Regions from separate parts of the Homo sapiens genome. Here region 2 is linked to region 1. Evidence: fine-mapped expression QTL. A gene starts in region 1. The other region holds a variant in brackets. All regions are shown on one strand. Distances are between the middles of the regions. Region 1 holds the start of CENPT (centromere protein T). Region 2 overlaps PSKH1 (protein serine kinase H1).

Region 1 (5,364 bases):
TTGACTCATTTTCTTGGCTGCCTGCCTCTATTTTTTTTTTTTTATTTTTTTTTAAGATGGAGCTTTGCTCTTGTCACCCAGGCTGGAGTGCAATGGTGTGATCTCAGCTCACTGCAACCTCTGCCTCCCAGGTTCAAGCAATTCTTCTGCCTCACCCTCCTGAGTAGCTGGGATTATAGGCACCCGCCACCACGTCGGGCTGATTTTTGTATTTTCAGTAGAGACAGGATTTCACCATGTTGGCCAGGCTGGTCTCGAGCTCCTGATCTCAGGTGATCCGCCTGCTCTGCCTCCCAAAGTACTGAGATTACAGGTGTGAGCTACCCCGCCCAGCCTCTATTTTTTCTTAGATTGAATATTGAAGGGGCAAGGATTACATTGCTTTTGTCTATAGCTCCAAGTAATTTAGCTCAAAGCCAATGTCTAAAAGTAAATGCCTTTAAAGCTCTGGGTTTACTGTGGGTGGTGGGGCACAAACGGAGACTTTCAGACCCCATAAAATATGACTCCCTTCTCTTTCTTACTTATGGACAAAGCCATCTGCCTGGGGACTTGTCTGTGGCAACATGCTGGGATGGTCCTAAAACTCAAGTCTCTGTTTCCCTTCTAGTCCCTTAGCACTGAGTTGGGAAAGTGGTGGGGAAGGAGTGAGACATAGGTTGTGTAGGTGGCTGGTTGGGGGATGGACTGGACCTCTGTCTTCCTAGGGTTAGATCTGGCTGGTAATCAGGTGGTGGAAGCACTGCAGTGCCCTTTGTTGCTCCTATTGGGCCAGTCTCACATCTTCCCGGTCGGAGCAAGGCCTTTTCCAGGATCCAGCCATGCTCTTCAGTGTATCCTTGAGCTCCTATTTATTGAAGGGACTTCTGCTGTTTCTGCATTGGCTCCCTTGAGGCTCTCAGCAGTACTCCCTGGACCCTCCCTGGTGTCTGGAGGTTATGGGCAGTGTTTTGGCTTCTTAGGGAGAAGAAGACAGTTCACAGAGCAAGGGAGATCCCAGATGCAGATGTATAAGCGGGGCAATGCAGAGTTCTCACTAGCTGAGTAATAAGCATCTAGTCAGGCAAAGTGTAGTGTTGACAGACCTGAGATTTAAAAAACAGAAGTGTGGTCCGGTCTTACCAGCCATCTCTTGGAGGGGTAGCCTGTGGGTGGGGGAAGGTGCAAAACTCTTGTGGAAGAACAGGAGTACTGAGAGACCTCCGGCCAGGAAGGAAGGCTAGGAGTTGCCTGGAGAGGCCTTGTAGCCATTTCCCTTACCTGTGGTACCCCAAGTTGGCTGCAGATCTCTTTGCCAAGCACAGGTCTGACCTAGAGACTGGCCTTACCACAAATGTTTGTGTTACCAAGAAAACAAATGGGCGTTGAAAGGAAAGGGCAATGGGTAGGAAGAGAACTATTTACAATCTGGTCACTTAAATCACAGCGAAATTTTGGGTAAGTCAGTCATTTCTCTTTCCTCATTAATAAAAATGAAACACTTAGCTGCTCTATCTGCTGCAAAAAAACCTTACAGAATGTTTTGGGGGGACCCCTGACTGTAGAAGTTTGAGGGTAACCTCTCCAACCAAGCCCCACCTGAGGGACATTTGAGTCTCCGGCCCAAGAATAGCCTAGCCTGCTCGAAACCAGCTTTGGGCCCGACTCGCCGAGGTGCAGGCGCACGAATGTTGGGATTGCAGGAGCTGTGCGTTCCGCCCGGGCTGGTTAAGGCCACACAGCTCGGAAGAGTAACAGCGGCAGCCATAGCCCCAAGGGGAGGGGGTTTCGTGAGCGGAAACGGCCCAGGGGCCCAGGGAGGGGCAGCTGGGCCAGCTTGGGGCCGGGCTGGGCTCCCACGGAGGCGGGGCCAACCCCCACCCCAGTGCACAGACTGGGCGGGGCCGAGCCAGCTGAGACCAGGAGACAACTGAGCCCTGACCCTAGCCTGGCGCCAACCTCTAGTGTTCCAGAGGCTTCCGCTAGACCACAATTCTCAGGGGCTTGCCCCGGCAGCCTCCCTCCCTGGCTTAGCCTCACCTCCCGCGCTGCGGGCCGTGTCTGGGCCTCCGCGCATAGCACGCCGGGAATTGTAGTTTTCTCTCGGCGCGCTCATGCCGGAAAGGGGGGGCGGTGGGACTGCGTCTCCCAGAGTGCAGCGGGGCGGGCGAAGGAAGGCAGGGGGGAAGGGACAGTCGGCCGCAGACCGCGCTGGGTTGCCGCTGCCGCTGCCGCCATCGTGCCAGCCCCTCGGGTGAGTGTCGGGGCCAGCACGCCGGGGCGGGGGCTGGGCCGCAGGAGCCGCTCTCTGGGCTGCCGGGAGGCTCCGCTGAGAGTCCCCGGGCGGCCCCTCCCCTCCCCCCCCCCCGGCGGCCCGAAGCCGCGCGGGGCCCGGGCCATGTGTCGCGCGCGGCTCCGCCTCCCGCCGGTCCTGTGAGGCGGCGGCCGGGGGTAACGCACAGAGAGCCAGCCGGGCGCCTATCTGGGCCGTACCGTGCTGGTGGCTGGTGCACCGGCCTGCGCCATGGCCAGGCCTTTTTCTCTAGTCAGGACCGTCCGGATGGGGCCTTAGGGCCCCGCCCCGTCTAGCCTGGCCCGGCCTGCGCGAGCCCCGCAAGCTCTGCAGGCTGGCTAGCGGGCAGACCCCAGCCCCACGTCCTGCTACCCACCTACGAAGGATCCGGGGATGGGCAGCGCCACCCGGCCCGCTCCAGAGTCAGCATGGGTAAGGGCGCCCGCCTGCCGCAGCCGGGGCTTGGGCCCCTCACCCTGTTCCCGACCATAGCCCGGCCGGGGTGTAGGTGAACGCCCCCTCCTTGTCTGCCCCTCGGAAGTGTACGTTTCTTACCGCGCCCTTTGTGGAGCCCGGACTGGAGTTCTCGCAGGGAGGGCAGGGTCAGGGAATATGAGGCGGGAGGGGATTCCACGGGAGACTTTATCCCTGTCTTGTCTTAGAGGATCTGGGCCTGATGGGGTGAGGCGGCTCCTGCCGGGTAGGCCCAGCCCACGCCCTTCTCTATCAGTGACCAGGCCCCAGCAGCAACACAGAATTGCCCCGCAGGACAGGATGACTTCATAAGAATGGGATGTTAAGGTGGGACTTAATGCACGGGAAGTAGAATTCAGGCCTGAGGTTCTTGAGCCTAGTGCTAAACCAGAACCTGGGCTGGAAGGGGCTTTGGGGGGTGGGGCACGTAGATTTCAGACTTTGTGGGGCCCTCCCGAAGCCTGGGTGGCAGAACTAGGGCTGGAAGCTCCAGAAAGTCTGGCTTCCCCTCACTTGCTTGCTCACTTCCCAACAACTGGAGCTGCCTGTAAACAGGCAGGAACCTGGTTGCTTTATGAAATTGCCCTTACTGATGCCATCAGAGACCCTACTGAGTTCTGGGGGAAGAGTTATCTTTGACCAAAAAATACTATCCTGATATCCTTTGTAAAGGCGCTTCTGATTGAGAGATGGTAAATTAAGGAACCAGTCCAGAGAAGACCTTGGGACTAGGGGAGAGATGGCATGTAAAGCGTTGATTTCTCTGAGCCGCAGTCTTTCCAGAGACTAAAGAAGTAGCTCAGGCCTGGCGCGGTGGCTCACGCCTGCAATCCCAGCACTTTGGGAGGCCAAGGCCAGCGGATCACCTGAGGTCCGGGGTTCCAGACTAGCATGGCCAACATGGCAAAAGCGCATCTCTACTAAAAATACAAAAATTAGCTGAACGTGGAGGTGCACTTCTGTAATCCTAGCTACTCAGGAGACTGAGGCAGGAGAATTGCTTGAACCCGGGAGGTGGAGGTCGCAGTGAACTGAGATCATGCCACTGTACTCCAGCCTGGGTGACAGGGCAAGACTCTGTCTCCAAAATAAAAAAAGCTGGGTGTGGTGGCGTGCACCTGTAATCCCAGCTACTTGGGAGGCTGAGGCAGGAGAATCGCTTGAATCCGGGAGGCAGAGGTTGCAGTGGGCAGAGATCATGCCACTGCACTCCAGCCTGGGCGACAGAGCAAGACTCTGTCTCAAAAAAAAAGAAAAAGAAAAAAAAAAAAAGCAGCAGCAGCTCAATCTCTGCAGCTCTGGCCTCAGGAGCAAGCAGAATATCAGGTCTCTTAGAAGGGCTGATTGAGACCCAAGGTGAAGAAAGCCACTGACCCTGCATATTTTTTTCTTCCTCCTTGAATATTTTCCCAGGTAATGTTTTTCTGTTCATTTCTGGTCACTTCTTCCAAGTACTCTTGACCTAGAAGTTTTCTTGCATATGAATTGCTCTGCCTAGTTATTCTCCCTGGTCAGGAAGAATAGGCAAGAATGCTGCTCAGATTTTACCAAGCCCTGCCTTCTCTCTGGATGTAACTTTCCTAGTCCATATCCTGGCCCATGAGGACATGGAAATCAGGTTCATCCAAGAGGCTCAGGAGAGGCCAACTTTGCCAGTGGAGCTGGGCAATAAGGAGGGACTACCCACAGGACAATGAGGTGAAATCTAGAACTAGAAGCAGTTATTTCAAGACCCTGTAGATTGTCTGCGTGGGTACTTTCTAGGACACAGATTTCAGGTGAGCTGGCTTACGGCTATGGCGTAGTTTGCGTATTTCATGGCCCTGGGTGACTTGACCAGGAGAGTTTTTGTTTTTCTCTCGAGACGGAGTCTCTCTCTGTCACCCAGGCTGGAGTGCTGTGGTGCGATGTCGGCTCACTGCAACCTCCGCCTCCTGGGTTCAAACGATTCTCCTGCCTCAGCCTCCCTGGTAGCTGGGACTACAGGCGCACGCCACCATGCCTGGCTAATTTCTGTATTTTTAGTAGAGAAGGGGTTTCACCATATTTGTCAGGCTGGTCAAACTCCTGACCTCAGGTGGTCTACCTGCCTTGGCCTCCCCAAAGTGCTGGGATTACAGGCATGAGCCACTGATCCCGGCCTAATTTTATTTTTATTTTTATCTATTTATTTATTTTGAGACGGAGTCTCACTCTGTCACCCAGGCTGGAGTGCAGTGGTGCGATCTCTGCTCATTGCAAGCTCCGCCTCCCGGGTTCACAGCATTCTCCTGCCTCAGCCTCCCGAGTAGCTGGGACTACAGGCGCCCACCACCACGCCCAGCTAACTTTTTGTATTTTTAGTAGAGACGGGGTTTCACCGTGTTAGCCAGGATGGTCTCGATCTCCTGACCTCGTGATCCGCCCGTCTCGGCCTCCCAAAGTGCCGGGATTCCAGGCGTGAGCCACCACGTCCGGCCTTATTTTTATTTTTTGCAGTGATGTCATCTCCATATGTTGCCCAGGCTGGTCTCAAACTCCTGAGTTCAAGCGATACTCCCACCTCAGCCTCCCAAAGTGCTGGGATTACAGATGTGAACAATTGCCCAGTGATCACAAGGGTTTTCTTCAGGGACAAA
Region 2 (5,364 bases), 70 kb after region 1:
TTAAGATAGATCTGGGAATGTCTGAAGCTTGAGAAGCTGATTGTGTTCTGGGAGCACTGCATGGTGCCAGGCTGTTGAGGGTCCAGCTGGCAGAGGGGGCATTGAACTTAGCCCAGGAGTGAGGGAGAGAGATTTCCCAAGATACGCTGACAGAGGAAGGACTCTGCTACAAGCCTGTAGGTTTGCCTGAGTTCCTGATTCTGGCAGTCGTTGACCTGGCAGCTAATCTAATTGGAGCTTGCACAGTCTTGCTAACTGGCTATTGATTACCTGAGGGTTGGAAAATGACGAATGGGGTGGGGAGTGGGTTCCTGCCCGCTCCTACTGTAGCCGAAAGACTGGGTCCTTAGATTCTGTTGTTCTTCTGCTGGAATCACAGGGCAGGACTCTGCAGCTCACAGTGAATGAGTGAGTGAATGAGTGAGTGAGTGAGAGAGAGAGAGAGTGTGTGTGTGTGTGTGTGTGTGTGTGTGTGTGTTGGAGAGGCACTGCTCAGCCTTTGCTCCCACTACCCTTTACCTGGAGCTGAAAAGCATCAGTTTCCAGCTCCAGAGGCAAATCCTGGCAGGTTCTGGTGGCCCTTATCTGTGACCAGGAGCTTGCCTGACCCCAAAAATCAGATTCTATCACCCGCTGTGGAGAGCTCTGGGTTGGGAGGGATCCGTCTGGGACATTTCCTGGGGGAGGGGTCCTTATCATGAGATCAGGCTCTCTCAGCTGGAGAACATCCAGCAGACCCTCAGGCCCCACAAAACCTGTTGAATCAGAATCTACATTTTAATGAGATTCCAGGGGATGTGCATAAACATCAGGAGTCTGAGAAGTACCAGCCTCTGCCACTCCCTGGCAGAGCCCTGGTTTCTCTTTACTTTTCTGCATGGAGGTGAGGACAGACATCGCTAGAATGGGACCCAGCAATCACTCCTTCCAGCCACTCACTTCACAGCTAGACGGTCTCCTGGTAAGCAGAGGCAGCACCTCCTTCAAGCTCCTGCCAGCAACCTGGCATGCTTTTATAGCTCTATCCCAGGACACTAGGACAGGCATTTTTTGTTATTGTTGTTCTCCTGGCCACTGCCCACCCACAAGCACACCTGCTCACACCTGGGGAAAATGCAAGAGACGTGAAGGCCTGTTCTTCCTATCCCTAGAGGTTGAGATTGCCTGGGGAGAAGGAACTAGAATAGGGAATGGCCATAGAATGAACCCGCATTGGCAGACACATGTGAACACAGGCCTTGGCATAGAGCCACTGGGCCTGGGCAGTCTGGAACATGGACTATGGTGCTCAGGTCAGGTGGTTGGGCCCTGACCCCACCCACTCCAGCCATCTGTCCTATATGTGTAATAGGTGTTTGCCATTAGGAAGGCCATGTAAGTGAGCAAGCCTCTGCCAGGATAACCTGTGAGAGAGAGAGTGTTCCATGATGAGGGGGTTGTTGCTGTGTGAATGAAGGACCTCTGACGCAGCAGCGTTTGGAGGTATGCATTCTTCACCAGCGAGTGTCTCGTGGTGCTTGGTGCCTTTCTAGGGGCACCTTTCCTGTTCCCTGACCCCATAGAGTGCTCTCCCCTGTACACCAGGCCGGGTCTGGTGTGCCTATTTCCTGCAAGCTCTGTCCATGCAGCCCCAGTCCTCTGTCAGGCTCAGTGGCATCCATGGACTTGAATAGAAAGCTTCCTGCAGAAGATGAGTTTTGAGAAGGAGGAGGCCCAGAGAAGGGAGCATTGCTGAGTGCTCCAGAATAAACAGGAGATTGGGAGTGACAGAGCAGAGGTTGAAGAGGCTGGGGCAGGTCTGGTGTTTGTTGTTGGGAGCCCTCTGCACTGTGGGAGGAGCCCTCTGGGTTCTGGGTAATGGAGGAGGAAGGCAGCAGAAAGTGGGAATGGAGCCTGGCAGGAGGAAGGCTAGCTGGAGGCTACTGGAATAATTCCATCCTGTCCTCCTGGGGATGTTTGGGGCAGATCAGGGATCCCAGGGAGTGGGATCCACATGGCATATGTAAGCCACAGTATAGGAGGTGAAGGAGTATGGAGCAGAGTCCTAGCTCTGCAGGAGGGACATCAGCTTGTATGGGCAGACTTGGAGAGGATTCCAGGCTACCCTCTGACCTGGAGAGCATGTGGGGTCCTGCCTACCATCCTGGCACTCCAGATCCCCCAGCCTGAAGCCCATGCCCTAGACCCCACCCCACTCCCTGCACACCACAGGCCTGAGCCATTGCCCCCATTCACTCTCCACACCAAGCTTCTGCCTCAACTGTTCACGCTGCTCCCAGTATCGGTCTTAGTTGTTTCCTTTAGAAATAATGCTGCCTACTGCCATTGTGTGGTGCCCACTAAGTAGCAGACCCAGGGCTGAATGTTCTACACCCCCCATCTCCAATCTATGACAACCCTGCCAGGTGGTACGTAATCCCCCACCTTACAGATGAGGAAACTGAGGATGGTGAGGTTACATAACTTGGCCATGGTCTCCCGACTGGAGGGTGGCACATCTGGGATTTGATTCCAGGCTGTCTTGGCTTCAGAGTTCTTGGCCTGTCTAGTGCTGCAGTCTGCTCTCCCTGGTATGTGTGCCTCAGCACGTTGCTGGTTTCTTGTTTCAGTGCTTTCTGGCTGCTGATCAGTGGACACATCTCTCCTGTCTAGCCTGTAGGGTCCTTGAGGACAGCATGTACATCAATACATATGCTGTCCACTGTCGTGTCCAGGCTTAGTGCACAGTGGTACCTGTATGCTGGGTTGAACTGCAGTATTTATAAGTGATAACTGGTGGGGGAATTTTCTCTTGGCTTCTCCTGAGGGAAGCACCAGTGGCTATTGGTGATGCCCTGGGAAGCGTCCCAAATGTGACTGCTGGCAGGCAGACAGGCTGTGCAGCCAGTGGAGTGCTCCCCTCAAGGGGCCAGACTCCAGGAGGAAGCAGAGAGCCTGCTGGCAATGCGCTTAGGGGGCTGCTGGCCACAGCTGCCTGTGGGCACAGGCAGGGGGAGGATTTAAAGGCCCAGGGCTGGTGTGTGCTTGTCAACTTTTAGGGCAAATACAAGACTCTTGGAAGAGGGGTAAATGCTGAGGAGGAGATGACTGGAAAGGAAAAATCTGAATGTTTACCCAGCACCCAGAGGCACTGGAGTGGAGAGGGCACGCTGGAGTGGA[G/A]AGGGCATGCTGGAAGTGGTGGGGAGACACAGGTTGGGAGAGGTAGCGAAGGCCTGTGTGAATGTGAGAGCAGTTTGAGGACACAGTCACCTTGAGAGGCGGCTTCCTATCACAGGAGGCCTGGAGGAGCTGTTTCTAAAGGATGACACAGAAGGTGAGTCATCAGCTACAGACTCATGCTAGAGAACTGTCAGGGTCCTCCAATGCAGAGAGTCTGTGATTCACTTGACATGAAATGTGACATCCTTGATGTCAGTGCTTTTGTCAAGAGTTCTATTCCTAGAGGCAGGACGGATGAAGGGGCTCTTGTAGGATTGATATTAGAGTGATGCCATTAGGAGCTTTGCTGTCTGCTGCATTCAGCATCCTGAATTATCACCCTCCTCTGCTTGGCCAGTCTCTGAGCTGTGGGTGAGCCCAGGTGACTGTACTAGGAACAGGTGGGCTTGGGTAGAATTTCTCACAGAGCCTTGTGAGTGCTGCTGGGCAGGGGACAGAGTACTGTTGGGAGAGGAAGCCCACCTTCATAGCCACTCTGCTGCTACCTGGGTGACAAGGGCTGGTGGGAGGTGGCCTCCCAGGGTTGGGTGTCTGGTCTGCAGGTTGACCATACATTGATCTGGGGCTAAGTATACCTGAAGGGGCAATGAGCTTGACCACCTGTAGTTCTTTTTTTTTTTTTTTTTGAGATGGAGTCTTACTCTGTCGCCCAGGCTGGAGTGCAGTGGTGTGATCTCGGCTCACCAAAGCCTCCACCTTTTGGGTTCAAGCAATTCTCCTGCCTCAGCCTCCCAAGTAGCTGGGATTATAGGTGCCAGCCACCACACCTGGCTAATTTTTGTATTTTTAGTAGAGACGGGGTTTTACCACGTTGGCCAGGCTGGTCTGGAACTCCTGACCTCAGGTGATCTGCCTGCCTTGGCCTCCCAAAGTGCTGGGATTACAGGTGTGAGCCACCACACTCGACCTCCCCACTTCTTAAAGTGACTCTAACATGCCTTGGGATGTAGAAGATAAAATGAGATGCAGAGAATGTGGCATGTCTCAGTGCTCTCTAGGTGACGGGGCTTGGTTATGCAGCCTGGTCCTATGCTCTGACTTTCTGTCTCCCTCCCTGCCCCTCATCTCCCCGCATATGTCACAAGGAGCAGCCATGTGAGCAGGGATAGGACCTCATCCCAGAGTCATGGGGAGCGCTGTCCGGGTGTCTGGAGAGCAGGAGACCAAATGTATATGCTGGTGGCAGAGTGGAGGCAGGGAAGCGGGGAGCGTGTTTCCTGGCTTATGCTTGGATTCTCCTGGATGCTTTAATTGCCTGACTTTTCTCACCTTCAGTGTGGGTGGGGACTGTGATGGACCCATCAGCTCAACTCTCTTCTCACTGACCCCTGCTCCCAGAGTCAGAGGATGGCTTTCCCACGACTGTCTCAATAGCTGACAGCACGAGCAAACACAAATCAGTTTAGAATTCTTTGCTATGAGGCATCTGTCCCTAAGCCCTTCTTCCCTGCCAGCCTGCTGGGGCTGCTGCATGTCAAGTGCTGGATGCTTGTGCTGTCTGTGTGTGAGGATCCCATGAGGATGATCAGATGCCCCCATACCTGGCCAGGAAGGTTCCCTTGGGAAAAGCCATCCCCACTTCACCAAAACACGAAGTGTTCAACAGATTAAGTCTCCCTCCTTCACTGCAGGAGCCAATGCCCTCAGGCTGGATTCCTGACTAGTCACTGGGAGGTGGCATGGTTTGGGCCACTGGATGGAGGCAGTGGACCCTCAGTTGGTCACTGTGGCTGGGGACCTGCCCTTGGTTGGAGACCTCTGGCAGGAAGGCAGAGGAAGCTCTCTCCATGTGAGGCCAGAGGAAGCTCTGAGTGGAGAAGAGCAGCAGCCCCATCTTGTGTCACCTCTGTGCCACCACTGGGCTCCCCAGAGCCCTGTCCTCTAGGTTTCCCTTTGTCACTGCTGCCCTGGTTGCATACACCCCAGAAAGCAGCAACTTCCCTGTAGTGGCAGGAGCAGACCCACCCGCCACGCTGCTGCATTCAGCCGTTCCTGCTGACCACCCATAGCATCACGTCACCCTGGGTCACAGCTGCCTTTCATCACTTTTTCCACCTCCAGCCCTTGAGGCCTGGCCAACAAAGAGCAGGGTGTGGTGGCTTGCACTCAGAGCCATCCCTGGTGCGTCAGCCATCCCCTCCCTCT

What was found. PIP is the estimated chance that this variant, and not a neighbour inherited with it, causes the effect. A credible set is the group of variants that fine-mapping cannot tell apart.
Region 2: its variant is the best candidate, but not a certain one, in a credible set for the expression of CENPT in whole blood (TOPMed, PIP 0.50).

The regions. Positions count from the first base shown.
Region 1 is chr16:67,844,753-67,850,116 of GRCh38, forward strand. CENPT (centromere protein T) reads right to left here and starts at 2,941. Exons shown (of 16, transcript NM_025082.4): 1 at 2,649-2,941. It overlaps NUTF2 (nuclear transport factor 2), which reads left to right and starts at 2,181. Exons shown (of 5, transcript NM_005796.3): 1 at 2,181-2,233. RefSeq lists silencers at 1,667-1,936, 2,137-2,486 and an enhancer at 2,957-3,066.
Region 2 is chr16:67,914,765-67,920,128 of GRCh38, forward strand. All of the region lies in intron 2 of PSKH1 (protein serine kinase H1), which reads left to right. Among named protein-coding and RNA genes, the nearest start is that of CTRL, 14 kb to the right of the region's middle. RefSeq lists enhancers at 952-1,475, 4,628-5,133. The variant G/A (reference allele first, on the strand shown) is at 3,160.